2 linked regions of the Homo sapiens genome follow. The protein of the gene in region 1 interacts with the protein of each later gene in a biochemical or structural test. Each region holds a gene or a part of one and is shown on either strand. Other genes may lie near its edges. The genes, in order: ATF7 and OCIAD1.

Evidence for each region.
Region 2: the proteins of ATF7 (region 1) and OCIAD1 form a complex in vitro, tested with the Homo sapiens proteins (one study listed by BioGRID).

Annotation. Positions count from the first base shown.
Region 1 is NC_000012.12:53,510,071-53,521,297, reverse strand, and holds the end of ATF7 (cyclic AMP-dependent transcription factor ATF-7), read left to right. Parts: intron 1-3,689; exon of another isoform or gene 3,690-3,943; coding exon 3,944-4,161; 3' UTR 4,162-9,244; downstream 9,245-11,227. UniProt on the Homo sapiens protein: Stress-responsive chromatin regulator that plays a role in various biological processes including innate immunological memory, adipocyte differentiation or telomerase regulation.
Region 2 is NC_000004.12:48,831,437-48,842,834, forward strand, and holds part of OCIAD1 (OCIA domain-containing protein 1), read left to right. Parts: exon of another isoform or gene 1-85; coding exon of another isoform or gene 86-95; intron 96-1,183; coding exon of another isoform or gene 1,184-1,188; coding exon 1,189-1,246; intron 1,247-1,964; coding exon 1,965-2,045; intron 2,046-11,199; coding exon 11,200-11,253; intron 11,254-11,398. UniProt on the Homo sapiens protein: Maintains stem cell potency. Increases STAT3 phosphorylation and controls ERK phosphorylation. May act as a scaffold, increasing STAT3 recruitment onto endosomes. Involved in integrin-mediated cancer cell adhesion and colony formation in ovarian cancer.

The sequences.
Region 1 (11,227 bases):
AATTGATCTGACTAGGCTGGGCGCATGCCTGTAATCCCAGCACTTTGGGAGGCCAAGGCAGGCGTATCACCTGAGGTCGAGAGTTCGAGACCAGCCTGGCTAACATGGTGAAACTGCTTCTACTAAAAATACAAAAAATTAGCTGGGCGTGGTGGCATGCGCCTGTAATCCCAGCTACTTGGGAGCCTGAGGCAGGAGAATCACTTGAACCTGGGAAGCGGAGGTTGCAGTGAGCTGAGATGGTGCCATTGCGCTCCAGCCTGGGCAACAAGAGGGAAATTCCGTCTCAAAAAAAAAAAAAAAATTGATCTGACTTACATTTGAACAGGACATCAGGGGTACAAGGGCAGAAGCAGGCAGTCCACTTAGGGGCTGTTACGGTAATACAAGCAAGGGATGACGGTAGTGAAAGTGACGAGAGCAGGCTGAATCCAGGATATGTTTTGAAGTTAAAGTGATGAGAGCAGATGGGATGGTATATATGAGAAAAAGAATAAAAAATTACACCAAAGTTTCTGGCTTAAGCAACCACAAGAATGAAGTTGTCATTAATTGAGATAGGGTAAAGTGTAGGGGAAATGGTTTGGGAGGTATATCAGGAACTCAGTTTTGGACAAACTGAGTTTAAGGAGCCTATTAGGCTTACAGGTGGAGATGTCAAGCAGTCAGTTGGTTATATGGATTTGTAATTCAGAGGAAAGGCTGAAGATAAAACTCTGGGAGTCGGCAGCATATAGCTAGTTTTGGTTTTGTTTGGTTTGGGATTTTTTGGAGGCAGGGTCCACCTCTGTCTCCCAGGCTCTCAAGTGATCCTCCCCACTCAGCCTGAGTAACTGGGACCACAGGCGTGCACCACCATGCCCAGCTAATTTTTTTTTGTTATTTTAGAGATGATGTTTTGCCATATTGGCCAGGCTGGTCTCAGACTCCAGGACTTAAGGGATCTGCCCGCCTTGGCCTCCCAAAGTGCTGGAATTACATGTGTGAGTCACCACACCTGGCCATAGTTAGTTTTTAAAGCATTGAAACCAGATGAAGTTCCCAAGGGAGACAGCAGAGCTAGAAAAAGAGAAGTCCCAGGAATGAACCATGGGGTACTCCAACATTTACAGTTCATAGAAATGAGAAAGAACCCACAAGAGACTGAGAAGAAACAACCAGGAAGTGAGGAGGAAAACCAGCTACAGAGCCAAATGTGGTATTCTGTAAATCAAAATAAAAAAGTGTTTCAAGAAGTTCAGTGATTTTAAATCCTGTTGCTCGGTGGCTCACGCCTGTAATCCCAGCACTTTGGGAGGCTGAGGCGGGCGGATCACGAGGTCAGGAGATCGAGACCATCCTGGCTAACACGGTGAAACCCCATCTCTACTAAAAATAAAAAAAATCAGCCAGGCATGGTGGCGTGCATCTGTAGTCCCACCTAGTTGGGAAGCTGAGGCAGGAGAATCGCTTGAACCCAGGAGGCAGAGATTGCAGTGAGCCAAAATAGTGCCACTGCACTCCAGCCTGGGTGATAGAGCAAGACTCTGTCTAAAAAAATACCAAAAAAACAAATCCTGTTGATGGGCTAAAGAGGATAAGGACTGTTTATCAGTATATAATCTATATACGGTCAGTTTTCCACTTAGTCCCTGCAAGAACTCTGATACATAGTTAATCCATTAAACTACTTATTCTTTTTTTTTCTCCTGCCTCAGCCTCCCGAGTAGCTGGGACTACAGGCGGGCACCACCACGCCCAGCTCATTTTTGTATTTTTAGTAGAGACGGGGTTTCACCATGTTCCCCAGGCTAGTCTCCAATTCTTGGCTTCATGTGATCTGCCCACCTCTGTCTCCCAAAGTGCTAGGATTACAGGTGTGAGCCACCGCACCCGGCCTTACATATTCATTATAGCAAAGATGTATTTAGTTCCTGCTGTGTGGTATAGATATTATGTAAGTACCTGACACATGATGAATAAGACACTGTCACTACCTCTGAGAGAATCATAGGGTCATATAAACCTGTGGATGAGGTAAGGATAGATATCCCAGTTAAAAAGCCCCTAAACTGGGAGCTTCCTAAGGATAGGGTTCCCGTTTTCTTCTCTGTGTACCCATGCCTGGTACATGGATGATGCTCAGTAAAATGTTTGATGAATATATGCTGTGAAAACACAAAGAATAAAACAGTTAATGTACTGAGGGTAACAAAGATGGCTTCACAGAGGACGCAATATTTGAATCTTTTTTTTTTTTTTTTTGAGACGGAGTCTCGCTCTGTTGCCCAGGCTGGAGTGCAGTGGCACAATCTCGGCTCACTGCAAGCTCTGCCTCCCGGGTTCACACCATTCTCCTGCCTCAGTCTCCCAAGTAGCTGGGACAACAGGCGCCCGCCACCATGCCCAGCTAATTTTTTGGTTTTTTTTTTTTTTGAGTAGAGACGGGGTTTCACCATGTTAGCCAGGGTAGTCTCGATCTCCTGACCTCCTGATCCGCCCAGCTTGGCCTCTGAAAGTGCTGGGATTACAGGCGTGAGCCACTGCGCCCGGCCATATTTGAATCTTAAAAGAAGACTCAGGCATTCATCAGGATGTCAGAAATACAACTGACTATGGAACGTTTGCCTTTTTTCCACATATTTCTGTTTAAGCAGCCATAGAGGCTATCCGATGTTTAATAAAACTCCTTGACTTGCTGAGTGTGATGACTCATACCTGTAATCCCGGCAATTTGGGAGTCTGAAGCAGGAGGATGGCTTGAGGCCAGCAGTTGAAGGCTGCTGTGAGCTGTGATTGTGCCATGGCACCTCCAGCCTGGGTGACAGAGTGAGACCCTCTAAAAAAATTTTAAAAACATTTGACTAATGAGCAACATGGAGTTACCATTGTATGTAGCTCAGGTAGTTGTGTTTAGTAGTAAAATGTTAGTGTCACTTTAGGTGGAGTGGCATAACTTATAATGTTTTATAATCATTAATGCCTAGCTAATTTTTAGTCAGGAGGGTCTTAAGATTTCTTTGTAGTTTTACATGTTAACTGAACCCGGGCCAGGGACTGGCCATTCATAATATCATTTAATTATAGCTTGATATCTATCAGACTTACCTGTGGTACAACTACATGGTAAAGGAACATTAAAAATAATGGAATAGGCCTGCCACAGTGGCTCACGCCTATAATCCCAGCACTTTGGGAGGCCAAGGCAGGCCAATCACTTGAGGTCAGGAGTTTGAGACCAGCCTAGCTAACGTGGCAAAACCCCATCTCTACTAAAAATTCAAAAATTAGCCAGGTGTGGCAGTGTGCACCTGTAGTCCCAGCTACTCGGAAGGCTGAGGCACGAGAATCACTTGAACCTGGATGGCAGAGGTTGCAATGAGCTGAGATTGCACCACTGCACTCCAGCCTGGGCAACAGAGCAAGACTCAGTCTTAGGAAAAAAAATAAATAAATAAAATAATGGAATAATTCAGTTCCTGTGAGAATTAATCAAAGAGGATGGCTAAAAAGAGATCTATTTTAAATCATCTTTAAAGAAATGAAGGCCAGGCGCAGTGGCTCATGCCTATAATCCCAGCACTTTGAGAGGCCAAGGCAGGAGGATCACTTGAGACCCTATCTCTTAAAAACAAGAAAGAATAGAAGTAATGAATAATAATAAGAGTTGGTAATGAACTATGCAAAGACCTAGAAACCAGACAGTGTAATTAACATGTTGGAGATTCATTTTATTGGAATAGATAGGTTAATTTTGGCCTAGTTCTTCCCTTCTTACAACTTCCCATTTCCTAGCCCATTTATGACTTAGAAGCCAGGATTCTGGGAAGTTTTCCCCAAAAAAAAGATGGGTTTCATTTCCCTTTTGGGCTCCTTTAGAATTATGGCAAAAGGTAGTCCTGCCTCTTTCCCCATTCTGTTTTCTAACCAATTGCTCTCTGCTCTTTGCCCTCCTTCCTGGCAGAAAGCCCCAAGGAAAGCTCAGAGCCAACGGGTTCTCCAGCCCCTGTGATTCAGCACAGCTCAGCAACAGCCCCTAGCAATGGCCTCAGTGTTCGCTCTGCAGCTGAAGCTGTGGCCACCTCGGTCCTCACTCAGATGGCCAGCCAAAGGACAGAACTGAGCATGCCGATACAATCGCATGTAATCATGACCCCACAGTCCCAGTCTGCGGGCAGATGATGCCTCCTCTGGTGGAGAGGTCCTCAGCCAGAGCTCGCCCGCCCAAGAGCCAAGAGAGATGTCATCTTATCCCCTCCCATCTGCCTTGGACATGGCAATATGGGTGGGGGGAATTGTGTGTTGTGAGTAATGGACAGATATGGGGCTTTTTAGCCATGTGGTCATGTACGTTTGACACCTGTGCTGGGGGCCTCCCAGCCCCGGAGCCTCATAGATCATCCCCCAGGGTGGGGTTTCTGATGCATCCACAGCCAAAGGCCTTTCCAGATGGTCCGAACAATCACCCCTGCCCCATGCACGTGTATCTGTCTCTTTTAACACTAACCCTTGGCACTTCTAGGTTTGGGGTTTCTCAGTTCCCTCTCTTCCCACTAAGCCGTGGCTGTTACCTTTTTGTTCCTTACCAGCATGCCACTTCCTGCCAGATAGAGGGAGGCTAGATTTGATGACATATTACCCGCTGACCCAGCCCCAGCCACCCCATGGACTCAGGACTCAGGTCTCCCATAGCTGCTTATTTACCCGTTTCCTTTTTCCTCTTCCTTAATTCTAGTTAAAACATTCACTTACGGAGAATGTAAGGTTACCTTTGATGTATGAAGTAGCAGTATTTTCCAGTTTTTCCATAAGCTTTATTCCTTCTCTCTACCTGCCACCAAAAAGAAAGAAACCCTCAAGAGTTCTAATTCTTTTTCATCTATTTGCAGAGCTATTTGGGTACCTCATTTTGTCCCTTGACTTTAGTGTAGTGGTGGGGTCTTTCCCACCACCCCACTAAGCCTTGGCAACCTCATTTTGTGGCCTTATTATTAAAGATTGCTTGGTAGTGAAAAGGGAAGGGCCCAGAATCTGACTGGCTGATTCTGTCTCCTCCCCTCCCTCCTTCTTTAGTTTAACCATCAGGGCAGACAGGAACAAAGTATTTCAAAGCTTGTTCCATCAAGTTAGGGATTAATCGATTCCTTTATGTTTTATAAGAGTTTACCGGCCAAAGCATATTGTCATCTTTGGTCATTTTTCTGCTCCTGCTTCTCTCTCTTCATTCCCCTATCAACATTACCGCCCCTGTCTCTCTTCTGTAACTACTTCAGACTCAGCCCTCCTGGAGGCTGTCATGTAGGGGACTCTCGAGTTCCTTTGTTCTACCCCATCTCTCCCCCTCACACATCTGTCTGCTTTTCTGAGCTAGAGTCTTCTGTTCACAAGTGCCCATCACCGTCTGGACTATCTTCTTTCTCTTTCACCAGGTTCCTAGCTTAGCCACTAGGTCTTCCAGGTCCTCCAGAGTTTCTTCAACCCATTTCTTCTCTCTTCTCTTTACATGCAGTGCTCCAGGATCTTGAAGCGTCATAGCCAAGATGCTGAGTGGGTTTACTTGAGTATAAGATTGAAAGGAGGGAGGAAGAGGAGAGGGAAAGTGCAGAACTGGTCCCAGCAAAGGACCCCAGGTTCTGGCCTGGGAAATTGGTGACTATTGCTCTCAACCATTCTTACTTTGAAGAGTTGGGTTGCAGAGGGAGCAATTCATCTCTCTTGTCCCTCTTCCACGTTAAGGCTTCTCATCTCCCCTTGGCTCTGAACTATGCAGTTTCTACCAGGACCATAGGAAGCAATTCAGAGCCAGAGGCCTGTGGATAGATAGGTCAGCTTTAATTGCCTTTCCGTATGAAACCCTTCCAGTTGTCCCAGAGCCACTTTCTGCCATCTGTGCAAGCCAAGAATGTCCTTCTCTCCATCTTTCCTACCTCCATCTTAAACATACATACAAAATAACTGCCAGCTTCCTTTCTTATTTTGTCTCCAAAATTGACTGTCACAGGGGAATGAGAAAATGTTCTAAGCTACAAGATTCCCGTTTCCTTAAAGTGATATCCTGTCCTAGTGAACCAGTCAGGTAACAGGTTCTGCTGCATTTGTTTTAAATTTCCCCTCCTGCTTTTCAGAGCTGGTGCTGAACAGGCCACACCCCTAAAGACAAAGGAGAGAAAACACGGTTTTCTCATCCTCTACCATCAGGTACCCAACAGGAATAGGCCCTGAAGTGATTCAGACTAGCAAATGTTATGGCAGATGGTCAGGACGCAGGTTACCACATCCAGGGACTTCACTTTTGCCTTTAAAAATTCACAGCCGTAACTTGTGCTCAGGACTTCCCCTTTAGCTGGCTGCTCCCTGGGATTTTCTCCTGCTTTAGAGTTTTGTTTCATTTTTTTATTGTCTTGATTTCCCAGTAGCAGCCTTGCCCTAAAGCTTGACTGAGTTTATGGCTCCTAAGGAGCTTTCCTAAGACTCTTGACTATTTTTCTTCCCCCTTCAGTCAAGTGTTTTTACAGTTAAGAATTAATTTGTAACTGCATACATGCCCTGCCAGTCTGTCCCTGTGTTGGGTGGCTAATTTATGTAGCGGGTCTTTTTTATTTCTTAGCCCCCATGACTAATTATCTAGTCCTAACTTCATTTTTATCAGTGGGAAGATGTGTACGGGACCTCAGTGAGGAGCACTGCCAGAACCACAGTAACAAAATGGCACTGAAATAAGGAAGCAGCAGGTCAGAACCCCCTAGATAGTTCTTGAGTTGGTTCTCAGTCTCACTAAGGAGGCAGAATAATTGCTGCCCTGAAACTTCTCTGATAGTCAAAGGTAACTTCACTTACCTTGTTATTGCTACCAGCCATGTGGTCACTCTCCCCAAATCTTTGTCTTCCAGATCCATCTGGACCAGAACCAAACATCATGGAAGGTGTCACTTGGCCCTTCCTAAAGTCCATGGCGTTTCTAGAGGCCTAAGGGAGGACACTTTCAGAAAGGAGCTGAGTGTATGGTGGGTGTCCTGAATTCGTTCATGTGAATACAGGACTCAGGCTTCCCACCCCACTCCAATGTGAGTGCTCGATACACAAGCACTCTAGCTAGCTGCCACGTACCCAAGGCCACAGAGGGAGGGGACAGAACCAGGTCTTCTGGTCTGCTCACTTTCTGCCCCATTCCCCTAACAGAAAGTTTGCTTAGAGTTGAAAAGTCTAAGAAAGCCTCCCACAATACTAGAGAGGCCAACAAAAAAAAAGTCATGCCCCCTTTACTTACTCTTTTGCTGCTGGTTATGCATCTCAAATCTGACTTCCTTAGCCTTCACCTCCCTCCTTGGCCCTAAGCATTAGACCATGTACTCTAAGTAGTGGTTAAAGAGGGACTGAGCAAACTGAACCTCCTCTCGCTCACTTCTCTATCCCTGTTCTGTTGGTTTTGGCTCCTTTCTTGATTCACTGCCCTCTAGCACCACCCATCCTGGTAGATGGAGTGCTTAACCCCAACCGTGCCCTATGTACAGCCTGAACCACCAAACAGACACCAAAAAAATTCTTCCTGTGGTTTCTGGGGCTCCCCTGCTCCACACTGAGAGGCTCCTTAAAGGTGCTAGCCCCTGATACAGCTATCCCCGCCAGTTTTCTCCTTTTTTCATAACTTCCTTCCCATCCCCAAATCATTAATTTTTCATTAATATTGTACATTATATACACAGGAAGGAAATACATTATTTTTTTTAAATTTCATAACCAGCCTGTTTAGATTCCAGTCTTCCTAGCTATATCACATATGCCTTGTTGATATGCTCTTTCTGCTTTCTTTAGACTTAATGTTTGACGGGGGTGGGGGTGTCTGGAAGAACAGGAAAGGTGGGGATCCTAAGGCAGATTAAAGGACTCCCTCCACCCCACTACAGCCTCCCATAACTCTAGTCATCCCTCTCATAGTACAGGACTGATTTCTCTGTGTCTGTTTGTACACACAAATGTGCATACAGACATAAATTCCCCCACCCCATACCAAGGTGGTTACCTAGCAGGAATGAGCGTAGGTGGCTGCTGGCCACCATTACCACCGTCTGCATCAGCTGTGTTGTCTCTCTTTGGGGTAAAGTCCTACCCCAGAATGAGAAAAGGCTGGGGAGAGTAGGGCAGGTTAAAGGAGCTTATGTCCTCTGTAGATGTAGGTTTGTATCATAGCTACTAGGGTTTATTTTTTTAATGGGGGGCTAATAGCACAGAGTTATCTCACCAGCAGTAGCTACTGGTGAGTGATGTTTTAGCTGTAAGAAGTGGCTATGAGCAATAGTTTCACTGACTTTACCTTAGGGCAGTGCCACAGTAATCTGGGAACTTGTTAGAAATACACATTCTCAGGCCCCATCCCAGACTTATTGAATCACAGACTCTGGGGGCAGGGTTTAAAAGCACTCCAAGTGATTCTAATGCACACTAAAGGTTGAGAACCATTTCTTAGGGATAAGCTGGGAAATTTTTACAGGTGTGGAGGATATTTCAAATACATCTTTTGCCTTTGCACTAACATGCTTTCATTTCTTTCAGTCTCTTCCTCCATTCCCTTTAAAGTCTTCCCCATCATATCACTGATCTCAAAAGCTAGATTTGTCTTCATTTTAGTCGTATCCCTAAAACCATGCATTGGTCTGGACAGGAGTTGTCCCATATTCCCTTGCAGACTGGTCACTCCATGTTCTCTGTTACAGTAAGGACCAGCCAAGCTTCAGCTGTCCCATTCCTCCCCCTACAACACACACACCTTTCAGGCAGGGAGGAGATGAGCTTCCAGCCCCAAGAGTGGAGGCTGCCACATCCTAACATAGTATCTATTGAAAAGGAAGCAGTGTGTATCTATGATTATATCTCTGTTCATCTATATATTTTTGACATGTAGCAACACCTCTCCATCTTATCAAGGAACTCAACTCGGTCTGGGTCTCCCCAGTGCCCAGTGGTGGCCTTTGACAGGTAGGAGGATGCAGTGCTGCAGGCTATTTTGTTTTTTGTTACAAAACTGTCTTTTCCCTTTTCCCCTCCACCTGATTCAGCATGATCCCTGTGAGCTGGTTCTCACAATCTCCTGGGACTGGGCTGAGGCAGGGGCTTCGCTCTATTCTCCCTAACCATACTGTCTTCCTTTCCCCCTTGCCACTTAGCAGTTATCCCCCCAGCTATGCCTTCTCCCTCCCTCCCTTGCCCTGGCATATATTGTGCCTTATTTATGCTGCAAATATAACATTAAACTATCAAGTGAACCACTGTTATGTCTGATGCTTCACTCCTCTATCCACAGCCCCCATTGTCCCCTTTTCTGGGAGGTCACTGGCCTTTCATGTCTGTCATCTTCATCACTCCCCCATTTCTTAGGACAGAAGGAACAGGGATTTTTGTCTCTAGTTTTTATACATGGGAGATACAGCCTAGAGAAAGTGGATGATTTCTATAAATTACAAAGTATGACAGAAGGCCCAGGGCAGAGCTCCTGTGGACTGCCTTGGAGACAAGGGCCCTTGGCATCCTGGCAGCAAGTACTCACAGGAAACTTAGTATGTGCTTTATGTGGATGGCGGGTGGGAGAGTTGCTGATGGCAAATGGCCTTTTACTTTTCAGTGTTTTGTTGCCAACCCCCACCCAACCATTAAAAAGTGGCTGTTGTGACCAGGGAGCACACACACAGACAAAGACGGAAAGTATAGCTTTCTATGGTAAGGAGGAGGCTGGTCTGGAAATGAGGGGTAGAGTTTACTTAGAAGCAGGTAAGAAAACCGGGCATGGTGGCTCATGCCTGTAATCCCAGCACTTTGGGAGGCTGAGGCGGGTTGATCACCTGAGGTCAGGAGTTTGAGACCAGCCTGGCCAACATGGAGAAACCCCGTCTCTACTAAAAATACAAAAATTAGCCAGGTGTTGGTGGCGGGCGCCTGTAATCCCAGCTACTCAGGAGGCTGAGGCAGGAGAATCACTTGAACCTGGGAGGCAGAGGTTGCAGTAAGCTAAGATCGTGCCGTTGCACTCCAGCCTGGGCAACAAGAGTGAAACTCCATCTCAAAAAAAGCAGGTAAGAGTTCACAAGAAAAACAGGTAATGCTCAGAGACTGTGGGAATCAGGAAGAGGTGTAGGGAAATCACAGATAATTTATTGCATCTGTATATTCCTTTATAAATAACATCACAAATGAGAACAATGAGCCAGGCTGAAGAATTTGACAAAAGAGATAGCAGGTGTCTCTGGAGTTTCCCAGTAGGAGAGAAATGACTTAAGAAGCTATCTGTGGCTGGTGTTTGGTAGACACTTGACACAAATAGCCTGTGCCTCCTGAGGAGAGCAGGAAAGGCAGTGGTGGTCTTCACTGTGTTGTGGCCAGGAGCACATGGGTGTCCAGAGAAGGGTAAGAAAGGAAATTGCTGAAAGCCAAATACCAAAGCCCAGATTATGAGGTTTTGGAGGTTCCCACCACTGAAGCTGCACTCTGAAAACTGGGCAGTTTACAAAATTAGAGGAATCAACCCATTCCAACTTCAAAGGAGACCAGTTACCTCCATCCTGGACACAGGAAGCCAGCTAAACCAGCCTCTTTCTGAATGCAGCTCAGCCCAGAGCCACTTGTAATTGATGTTTAGAGAAATACTAGAAGCAGCAGGATGGTAAACATGGAATGGCTGCCCTATGCTACGTGGAATGGTAGATTGCTTTACTGTTCACCTAGTGATAACAGGAGTAGTCACTTCATTTTATTGATGATAAATTGAGGTTTAGCCAAGTCACACAGTGAAGTGCAAGAGCTAGGATTACAACTGAGTTCTGTCTGGCCCAGAACCAGCTCTGCAGTGTCCCATCCACCCTCACACCGCTGCTCCTCTGGACCTCTGTCACACAGGAGCAGACAAGGATCATTCTGGGATGCAGCAGCTACTGCCCACAGAAAAGCCATCTCCCCGTGGCCTTGATACTCCCTTTTAAGAAGTGGTAAACTGGCCGGGTGCAATGGCTCATGCCTGTAATCCCAAAACTTTGGGAGTCCCAGGCGGGCGGATCACCTGAGGTCGGGAGTTCAAGACCAGCCTGACCAACATGGAGAAACCCCATCTCTACTAAAAATACAAAACTAGCCAGGCGCGGTGGTGCATGCCTGTAATCCCAGCTACTCGGGAGGTTGAGGCAGGAGAATCACTTGAACCTGGGAGGCAGATGTTGTGGTGAGCCGAGATCAAGCCATTGCACTCCAGCCTGGGCAACAAGAG
Region 2 (11,398 bases), on another chromosome or scaffold:
AGCTGGGGAAGTTCGTGGTCACGGATGCGTGTGGGGTTGCTGCTCAGTCTGTAACGGCAGGTGGGAGACGGACACTGGGTGGAGGATGGAGTGCGGTAATCAGCGGTTGTAGGCCGCTTAGGCTTTAATCCAGCGTTGTTTTGTGTAAAGAACTTAAAATGGTATTGTCTTAAGCGCCGTGTCAGCCCTGACAGTCTTCCTGGTGTTTCTAGGAAGGATGCCGTTATGGGAAATAAGAGGGTTTCATTTTTTCTCATACGGTTGTAGGGTAAAGGTAGTTTATTCAGCAGGCTCCATCCATCCATGAATTCAGCTGACCTTTTTTATTTCTTTTCTCTAATTAAGGGGTTGGCATGTAGTAGGCCTTCATGGCTTATTGACTGAATGAATTATGGAAGGGCTCAGTTGCTGTCCTCATTGTGTATGCCATTTCCTGTTTCCATGCAAATTGTTTTTAAAATGAGAATAATCATGATCCCACGTAAACGTTCTGTAAAATACGGTTACTTGATCTGTTGGTCTGAGTCCCAATATATGAGTTTTTAAAAAAAGAACCAAATAAAAAATGTATATTCTTGGAATTTTATGCATTTTTTTCTTATATTCTTGGGGTGGAAGGAAATTTGGAGATACAGAATTTGCTGTTAGTTTTACCTCACAGGGAGAAGGATATGTCGTCTTTGTTATTCCATAATTTTGGAGTGCTCCTTTGTGGGAGAGGTTGAATGTTTCTGATGATTATTTCATTTTTTAATATGGAAGCTCAGAAATGACTTGAAATTTTTTTTCTCTTCTATTTTGGGGAATTATCCTAATCATTGGGCATAGATTCGAGAAACGACCAAAACATAGGATGTGAAAGAACCCACTTCCAGGAGGAAAAAATATGTCTGTTATTTTATTGATATCTTGATAGTAAAAAAAATTATAAACTTATAAAACGCATATGCTTTTTCAATTAAGGGACTTAACCTGAATAGTGAGTTCCAAATTAATCAGTAGGTCTGTTACTTTTTCATCTAGCTATTTACATGTGGAGTACGTAAGATATAGTAGTGTTTAATAAATATTTGTTGATTGATTGCTGTGTAGACTAGTAGTTTTACTATATCATACGTCTTGATTTACTTTGACCTATCTAGTGATAGTTTCTAATACTTAATATGTAATGTTTTTGATACAGGAAAGATGAATGGGAGGGCTGATTTTCGAGAGCCGAATGCAGAGGTTCCAAGACCAATTCCCCGTAACTATCTATTAAGTATTTATAATTAGAAGCACTTCCTATGTAAAGGAATTTTCACTGCCTTGAGTAACAGTGGCAGGTGGGCTGGCTTCATGGGCATGTGCAGACAGCGCCCCATACTTGGTTTCATGTTCTAGTCTTGTTATCTTGAAATTCATAATCATTTGGATAAGGAGTCCCACGTTTTTATTTTGCACTGGGCCCAGCACATTAGGTAGCCAGTCCTGACTAGCAGATAGTAGCATTAATTCTATTTGAAGTCAAAGTTTGTTGAAAGTGTATAAGTGGCCTGGCTCGGTGGCTCATGCCTGTAATCCCAGCACTTTGGGAGGCTGAGATGGGTGGAACACCTGAGGTCAGGAGTTCGAGACTAGCCTGGCTAACATGGTGAAACCCCGTATCTACTAAAATACAAAAAATTAGCCTGGCGTGGTGATGGGTGCCTGTAATCCCAGCTACTCGGAAGGCTGAGGCAGGAGAATCGCTTGAACCCCGGGAGGTGGAGGTTGCAGTGAGCCGAGATCGCGCCATTGCACTCCAGCCTGGGCAACAAGAGTGAAACACTGTCTCAAAAAACAAAAAAAGTGCATAAGCCAGTTGTTTTATTATTTGAGTTTAAAAAATGGGTGCCTCTTGTTAATGTTTAGGCTAAGATAATTTTTCAGACCTAGTTTTATTATGGATAATTTAATGTTTTCTGATTTTCCCTGGTAAAAAGACATAGGGCCTGATTACATTCCAACAGAGGAAGAAAGGAGAGTCTTCGCAGAATGCAATGATGAAAGCTTCTGGTTCAGATGTGAGTTCAATTTTCTAATTAATATAATTTGATCCAAAATTTGTACCTGAAATTTTGACTTGAATTTGAACCTGAAATTATAATAACTCCGTATAGAACAAATTGGCAAACTTTTTGCATAGTGTGGTTGTTGTTAAAAGAGATTAAGGAGATAAAGGAATTGCACACATTTTAAAGTAATTATTTCCAGATTTTTAACAAAACCATGAGGTAATTTTGTTGATAATAGTAATAGTTAGCATTTACTGTGTGTACATAGATTATATAAAAACAACCCAATAAGGTTGATAACTATTATTACCCTCACTTTACAGGTGAAGGAATTGAGGTTTAGAGATGTTAAATGGCAACACTTAGTGTTACACAGGTGATAAATTACGATGTTTGGAGTTGAAAACAGGTCTGTCTGAAACAGATTTTACTCTTAATGCTTTTAACCATTATATAATAGCAGATTAGTTCCCATTTTATCATTGTGAAATGTTGTTATACTACCAGCTCTTGATTTCTGATTAAAGAAATATATATATATTTGTGTATATATATATATCAAGATTGTATTTTTTAAATACAGAGATTGTTGGAAGCAGTATACAAAATATACTCTCACTATTTAACAAAGAATTGGTATTGCTTTACTTGGAAACTGTAGTCCTTTCAGGTAAAAAGGAGGATGAATTTTTTTTTGTTTTTGTTTTTGTTTTTTTGAGATGGAGCTTCGCTCTTGTTGCCCAGGCTGGAGTACAATGGTGTGATCTCAGCTCACTGCAACTTCTGCCTCCTGGGTTCAAGCGATTCTCCTGCCTCAGCCTCCTGAGTAGCTGGGATTACAGGCATGTGCAACCATGCCCAGCAAATTTTTCTATTTCTAGTAGAAGCGGGATTTCACCATGTTGGCCAGGCTGGTCTTGAACTCCTGACCTTAGGTGATCTGCCTTGGCCTCCCAAAGTGCTGGGATTATAGGCGTGAGCCACCATGCCTGGCAAATTTTTTTTTAAAAAAGGCAACTTGGCACGGTGCCTCATGGCTATAATTGCAGCACTTTGGGAGGCTGAGGCAGGAGGATTGCTTGAGCCCAGAAGTTCAAGACCAGCGTGGGCAACATAGAGGGGCCTTGTCTCTACCAAAAATGAAAGAAATTAGCTGGGTGTGGTGATACGTAGCTGTAATCGCAACCATTTGGGAGGCTGAGGCTGAGGTAGGAGGATCCCTTGAGCTGGGTACATAGAGGCTGCTGCAGTGAGCTATGATCACATCACTGCATTCCAGCCTGGGTGACAGAGCCAGACCCTGTCTCAAAGAAAAGAAAAAAAGGGCAACTTAAGCCATTAAGGAGGATGTATGTTTTCATCAGTCAGCCTGATATGTATGCTTAAAATGTGCAAGGTACCTGTTGGGAAGATAAGTTTTATGAAAGACAGACTTTGTCCTGAATTAATTTTCTTTTTTGTTTGTTTGTTTTTGTTTTTGAGACGGAGTCTCACTCTCTTCCCCAGGCTGGAGTGCAGTGGTGTGATCTCTGCTCACGTCAACATCCTTCTCCTGGGTTCAAGTGATTCTCCTGCCACAGTGTCCTGAGTATCTGGGACTACAGGCGTGCGCCACCATGCCCGGCTAATTTTTGTATTTTCAGTAGAGACTGGGTTTCACTATGTTGGCCAGGCTGATCTCGAACTCCTGACCTCAGTTGATTCACCTGCCTTGGCCTCCGAAAGTGCTGGGATTACAGGTGTGAGCCACTGCGCCTGGCCCTGAAGTAGTTTTATATGTGGTGAGACAAAGCTAATACATGAAACACTTAGAGATTAAGTGTGTAACTGCAGAAGACTTTTTAAAGAGATAAATTAATTAGAATTGACTTACTGAAATTGAAAAATTTGAATAACTTTTGAGATTTTAAAACTCAAAATTTTCTCAAAATTTTACCAAATTTCAATTTGGTAAAAACTGAAGCCTCTTACAATTTTACAGTTGTGTTTTTCTGTAACATAAGGTGGAATACCTGAGTTGGAAAAAGACCTTTATTTGTTAAGCAAACAATACTTTAACAACTTTATAATAGTACTGTAGGCCAGGTATGGTGGCTCACACCTGTAATCCCAGCACCTTGGTTTTGTTTTGTTTTTTATTTTTGTAGATACTAGGTTTTGCCATGTTGCCCAGGCTAATCTTGAACCCCTGAGTTCAAGCGATCTGCCTGCCTTGGCCTCCCCAAATGGTGGAATTTCAAGCATGAGCCACTGAACCTGGCCCCAGCACATTGGGTGGTTGAGGCAGGAGGATCGCCTGAGACCAGGAGTTTGAGACCAGCCTTGGCAACATAGTGAGACCCTGTCCCTAATCCCCCAACAACAACAACAAAAGAATTAATAGTTAATAAGTAGATAAGTGAAGAGGAAAGGTGGAGTAGCATTTGGAAGAAAGGAGTAGTGAACAAAGGCAGAGTTTGCAATAACTTCATCTCTGCTGGAGCGGTGAGCCTGAATTGATTGGAACAGAGGTCTTTCATTGAGGATAGAACGTAAAACATAGTAATGAGTTAAAGGTTTGATCCATTATATCGTTTAGGTTCTTGAGCAGAGGGGGGTGATATGTAAGGTTTTTTTTAAGGAAGGTTAGTTAACAGTGTGCAAGATGGGTAGAAGGGTGAGAAGTTGTACTTGGTAAAATCTGTTTTGAGCTTTTGGCAGTAACTTAGGCATATATATGTAGTCAACGATGAGATATAGTTGATTAGTGTGTCATTTGGACTGGAAAAGATGAGCTGGCAACGAAAGACTTTTTAAAGGACAAATAAAAGGATTTTTTAAAAAGTTCGACTAAGGGGGAATGAAGGAATGGTAAGAGGGAGGTAATAGCTTTAAGATAACCAGCTTAGGAGACTCAATGATACCTCTGAATAAAAGGTTCATTTAGAAGGAGTTCTTGTTTGAAGATGAGTTTAGTTCAGACGTTTTGAGTTCATGGTGCAACATTCGATTGTCGAAGATTTCTAAGCAACTACAGATAGAAACAAAAGCATACATGAAAAATTAGTTTATTGTGGAGTTGTGTTGGTGAATTCGCCAATAAATTAAGTGTAGAGATAAAAGCATAAAACTGATAATAGTTTCTGCCCTGTGATTAATACTTAGGATTGATAGAATAAAGGATAAAGTTTGGATAGTACCCATGGATAAGGGAACAAGTGATAGTGAAAGAATCAACAAAGACCAAGAGCAGTTAGGAAGATAGAGGAGCTCTGATAGAATCTTTGTCATTTTATCCACCAATATTCAGAGACTTGCAGGTATTTCAAGCTAGAAAGAACCTGAATAAGAATTAGGTGATGATGTCCATTTTAAATTTATGATGACTATGCATCTAAAACAGTTATTCTCAACTGGGAGCAGAATAACTGGAACGAGTTGAGAATAATTGTTATAGATGCATAGTCATCATAAAGTAAGGGCTTCTATAAAATTTTCATGGCTCATTAGAATGGGAATAATTTCTTTCTTTTTTTTTGAGACGGAGTCTCGCTCTATCCCCCAGGCTGGAGTACGGTGGTGCAATCTTGGCTCACTGCAAGCTCCGCCTCCTGGGTTCATACCATTCTCCTGCCTCAGCCTCCCGAGTAGCTGGGATTACAGGCGCCTGCCACCATACCTGGCTATTTTTTTTTGTATTTTTACTAGAGATGGGGTTTCACCGTGTTAACCAGGATGGTCTCCATCTCCTGACCTTGTGATCCACCTGCCTCGGCCTCCCAAAGTGCTGGGATTACAGACGTAAGCCATCGTTTTTTTTTTTTTGTTTTTTTTTCTTTTTTCGGTGTTCTTTTTTTTGTGACTGGGTTTCACTCTTGTTGCCCAGGCTGGAATGCAATGGCACAGTCTTGGCTCACTGCAACCCCTGCCTCCTGGGTTCAAGCAATTCTCCTGCCTCAGCTTCCCAAGTAGCTGGGCTTATAGGCGCCTGCCACCATGCTCAGCTAATTTTTGTATTTTTGGTAGAGAAGGAGTTTCACCATGTTGGCCAGGCTGGTCTCGAGCTCCTGACCTTGTGATCTGCCCACCTCGGCCTCACAAAGTTCTGGGATTACAAGCATGAGCCACTGTGCCTGGCCAGAATGGGAAGAATTTCTTAGAGAACTTGGCTGTATACTCCAGCAACAGTTCTTTTTTTTTTTTTTTTTTTTAAATCTTTGAAGATTATATAGAGTAGATAGGATAAAATGATCTATTTTTAAGTCTTGATGACACAGGATTAAGAAAAAGGCAAGTGTGATAGAGGGGATTTGGGATTATTGTAGTGTTGGGCTAACGGTTAAATAGATGCTAAGGTGTCCAGATTTATTTCTGGCTGATAAATGTATGCTGCTGCAGGTGTTTAACAATCTAAATAGCTGTGACAGGTTTATGCCAAAAGTACATTAAAGGGTAGTGAACAATGTCAGGATGCCCGTGTATACCAGACTCTTAATAGTGGGACATGTGGTATATGAACAGTACAAAGCTAAGTGATTTCTGTGCATTAAAACAGATAAATCACAGGTTGAAAAGACAAAAAGCGGCTGGGCTTGGTGGCTCACACCTGTAATCCCAGCACTTTGGGAGGCTGAGGCAGGCAGATCACCTGAGGTCAGGAGTTCGAGACCAGCCTGACCTATATGGTGAAACCCCGTCTCTACTAAGAATACAAAAATTAGCTGAGCATGGTGGCAGGTGCCTGTAATTCCAGCTACTCGAGAGGCTGAGACAGGAGAATCGCTTGAACCCGGGAGGCAGAGGTTGCAGCAAGCCAAGATCGTGCCACTGCACTCCAGCCTGGGCGACAGAGCGAGACTCCATCTCAAAAAAAAAAAAAAAGACAAAAAGCATGTGATAAGGACAGGCTGAAAGACAGCTTGTTAATTTTATACCATATCTACATTACTGAGAAATTACAGCAGCCAAAAAATTACTGTATTAATAGGTAGCATTTCACTCTCAAAACAGATAACCAAGGTGTTGTTGCATATTATAGCATCAAACATTGAAATGTAGAAGCTTGGTTGTAACCAGGTGATAGGAAGTTCAACGTATAATTATCAGAAGGATGATAATCATACATAGGAAATTTTGTACTTTAACATTTGTACTTTCGAATTAGATAGTCTATGCTGTATGTGACATTTATGTAAACAAATAATGGCATCTGTTACTTTGGAGAGTATCACCTTGGATTAGAAAAAGGTGATAAAAGCATTTACGAATTTATAAAAAAGCACTTACTAAGGTAATTTTTTATACATTTTTTAGGTCTGTTAAAATACTTATCCTCTTCTAAAATTAGACTTGTTGATCTAGGGACCATTCTCTTTCCTTAAGATAACTATGTTTCTATACTGACCTACATTCCATTAATCTGAAATATAACTATGAAGGCATCTTATTTCTAGGTGCTTAAAATCGTGACCCTATGCACTGACCTAAAATCACTATGTCTGTGCCCAAACACACAGGTAGTGAAGACCCTGTGCATATAGGGTCAGTTTATTGCATATTCATGTTAAAATAGTTCTCAAACTCCAGAATTACTAAAAAGATGTATCAGTTCATATTTGTATCAGCTGGAGTCTATGAATAATATTTCATATATGTGTACTACTAGTTTTCAAATGATACAGTATAAGAGTGATAAGAGTATGGGCCAGGCATGGTGGCTCACACCTGTAATCCCAGCATTTTGAGAGGCCGAGGTGGGTGGATCACTTGAGGTCAAGAGTTCAAGACCAGCCTGGCTAACATGGTGAAACCCTGTCTCTACTAAAAATACAAAAATTAGCCAGGTGTGGTGGCACATGCCTGTAGTCCCAGCTTCTTGGGAGGCTGAGGCAGGAGAATGGCTTGAACTCGGGAGGCAGAGGTTGCATTGAGTCAGGATTGTGACATTGCACTCCAGCCTGGGTGACAAAGCGAGACTTCATCTCAAAAAAAAAAAAAAAAGAGTATGGACTCTGAGGCCTGATTGGCTGGATTCAAATCCCAGCTCCACACACAGTAGCTGTGAGATTTTGGACAAGTTCCTGAGGTCTGTGCTATACTTTTCTTATCTATAAAATGGGGATAACTGCCTAGCTCATGAAATTATTATAGGGATTAATGCAATTTAATTAAGTGTTGGCTATCTTTATTAAATAGCTATTAGTGTTATTATGATTAATGAAATAAAAATTTTTATTGACTACAGTTAGGAATATAGAGTAGCTTTTTGTTACTGTGAGGGGAGAAGAGTTCAAATAATTGTAGGGATTCTTGTATATATTGAATATAGTTTGGGACTGTGGTAATAATGTGCACTAGGTTTTGGTCAGCAGTATTACTGATTTGCCTATAGAGACAGATTATTTAACAAAATAGATATTACATACTGTAGTGGAAAAGGCCACTGACTAGGGAGTCAGGAGACTTGGGTTCTGATCTCAGCATTACCACAAACTAACCAGCTGTGTTGCTTTGAGCAAATGACTTGTCTTTTCTGGATATTAGTGTACTCAGATTGGAATGAGGACTAGATAATCTCTGAAGCCTCTTTCAGTCTTACCATTGTCTTTTTCTGTGACATAAAGTAGAATACCTGAGTTGGAATGAGACCTTAGGTCTAATCCATTATTCCTTTATAGCATGAGAAGAAGCTATGCAAAGACATTGTGGTGAATGGCAGAACTAGTACTAGAATCTCCTCGAACAGACTATTACTCTGCATTAAATGGGGAAAGCATTATCCATTGTAGAAATGGCCAGCTAACTCATTGCCTTTTATTCTTATATGATTCTTCAGTGCTTCATGTTGCAATCCTTGAGTCAAGCTGGAGAAAAATGATTGCAAATTGTACTGGTGCTGTAATTAAAAGGGATTTGTCCTTTGCAAAACCTTAAATGATAAATGATAATGCATGAAGGCATTCTAACTAGCCAACATTAAAGAAACCATATTTCCAGCAAAGGTAAAATCTGTTAGTAAGTAGGATAGCATGAATTCAGACCTTAGCGTTTGTGCAATTTGTGTGTGATGGCAAAGTTAATGCCCTATTCCAAAGTGATGGATTTTAATCATGAAATCTGTAATAATTCAAATGTCTTAATTACTTTGGTTCTTAAATTGTCCATATATGGTTTAGACCAGAGTTGAACAAACTAGCCCATGGACCAAATCTGTTTTTGTATGCATGAGCTAAGAATTGTTTTTACATTTTTAAATGGTTAAGAGGCTGGGTGCAGTGGCTCACGCCTGTAATCCCAGCACTTTGGGAGGCTGAGGTGGGCTGATTACTTGAACCAAGGAGATCGAGACCAGCCTGGGCAACTTGGCGAAACCTCATCTCTACAAAAAAAAAAAAAAAAAAGAAAAAAGACAAAAAATTAGCCAGGCATGGCGGTGCATGCCTGTAGTCCCAACCACTTGGGAGGCTGAAGCAGGAGGATCATCTGAGCCGGCAGGTTGAGGCTGCAGTGAGATGAGATTGTACCACTGCATTCCAGCCTTGGTGATAGAGTGAGACTTTGTCTAAAAACATAAAATAAGATAAAATGGTTAAGAAATCAAAGGAAAAGAATATTTCATTACGTGTGAAATTACATGAAATTCATATGTTTGCATCTAAAAATAAAGTTTTGTTGGAACACAGCTACGTTCATGTGTTTTTGGATTGTCTTTCGGTGCTTTTGCTTTAAAACGGCAATTGAGTAACTGGGACAGAGATTGGCCCACAAAACCCAAAATATTTACCATCTGGCTCTTCATAGAACGTGTTTGCCAACCTCAGGTCTGGAACAGCACTGTCCAGTGTGGCAGCCAGTAGTCACATGTAGCAATTTAACTTTAAAATAACTTGCAGTGAAAGGATATAAAGCAAAATCATAAAAGGAAAGGGAGCATGGGGTGAAGTCCGGCGGAAACCAGGTCCCAAGAGTTCTCTTCCCAGGGAGTGTAAATTTCTCCAACAGCTAGTCATAACAATGTGTGAAGTTGTATCTACCCGGGGAACTCATTAGAGACTCAGTGCCCACAGTTTTTATTGGGGGCTGGTCACTTATTCACCCTCTGCCTAACAGGTACCAAAATTCCAGACTCCTAGAATGAAAGCAGATGTTTGGCATGAACTGTATTTGTACAAACAGTTTGGGCACAGTGAGCCAATTACGCATATCAATGGGGGGAACTGTTTACCAGTCAAGTACCAAGACCAAATTGATCACAGGGTTGGTCACTCAAAGACCAACTTCCATTATCATAAAAAATTCTGTTAGACAGTGCTGGTGTAAAGAACAGTGATTCATAGCTGTTTTTAAGTTATAGCCCCCTTTGAGATTATGAGTTTTGGATTTTTCACTCTCGGTTTTAGGCATATATATATATAGATGTAATATTTTCATATAGTTTAAGGAGTTCACTAGTTTAGAAGAAAGAACATAAGTGTTTAAAATATGTGCTTTTTAATTTTTGCCCCAGCCACCGTATGATTACGGTCAAATATGTTTTGTATTTTGGTTTAGATGGTATACTAGAGCTTAAAAGCTTGAGATCTGGTATCAGACAGATTTTATTAGAATCTGTAACCAACCATTCAACTAGTTGTTTGGCCTTGAGCAAATTACTTAACATCTCTAAGCTTCAGTTTCCTTATCTTTAAAAGGGTGGTAATAACATTATCTACCTTATAGAAATATGATAAAAAGTATAATAAATGAGATAATGCACATAAGGCGCTTAGCATGATGCACAGAATTTAGTCATTACTCAGTAGTGGTTCTTACTTGTAACTTGTTTCTTACCTCTCCTTCATTAACTTTTTCCCCTTCTCTTACTTCAGAAGTAATTTTGAGTCACTTTTACTGTGTTGTCTTAGTTGATGCTGTTGATGAACAGCTGGCTATTTGGAACCTAAGCCTAGATGGTTCATGAATTATATTGTTTAATATTTTGTGATGTTTTCTTAAATTTAAAATGCTCCTTTAATTTTTCCACTATGTATACAGTACAGCTTTTAAAAATGGAACAGTCTTTTTTAAAGGTCTTAGTTATGCAATATAATTCCTAGATGGTTTTACTGCTATTCATTTATCTAATGAACTTTAGACAAAATCTTTTACTTTTGTTGATGTTAACAAGGTCTTTTTCTTCCTATAGCTGTGCCTTTGGCTGCAACAAGTATGTTGATTACTCAAGGATTAATTAGTAAAGGTAAATATTTAAAATTTGAATTTATTTAGCATTTTGGATACCATGTTTGTTTTGTGGTATTTTCCAGGTCTTTAGAAAAAGTAAAGATAACAATGTATCATATTAAACACTATGTAGAAATTCATTGATGAATTTAAACGTTTTA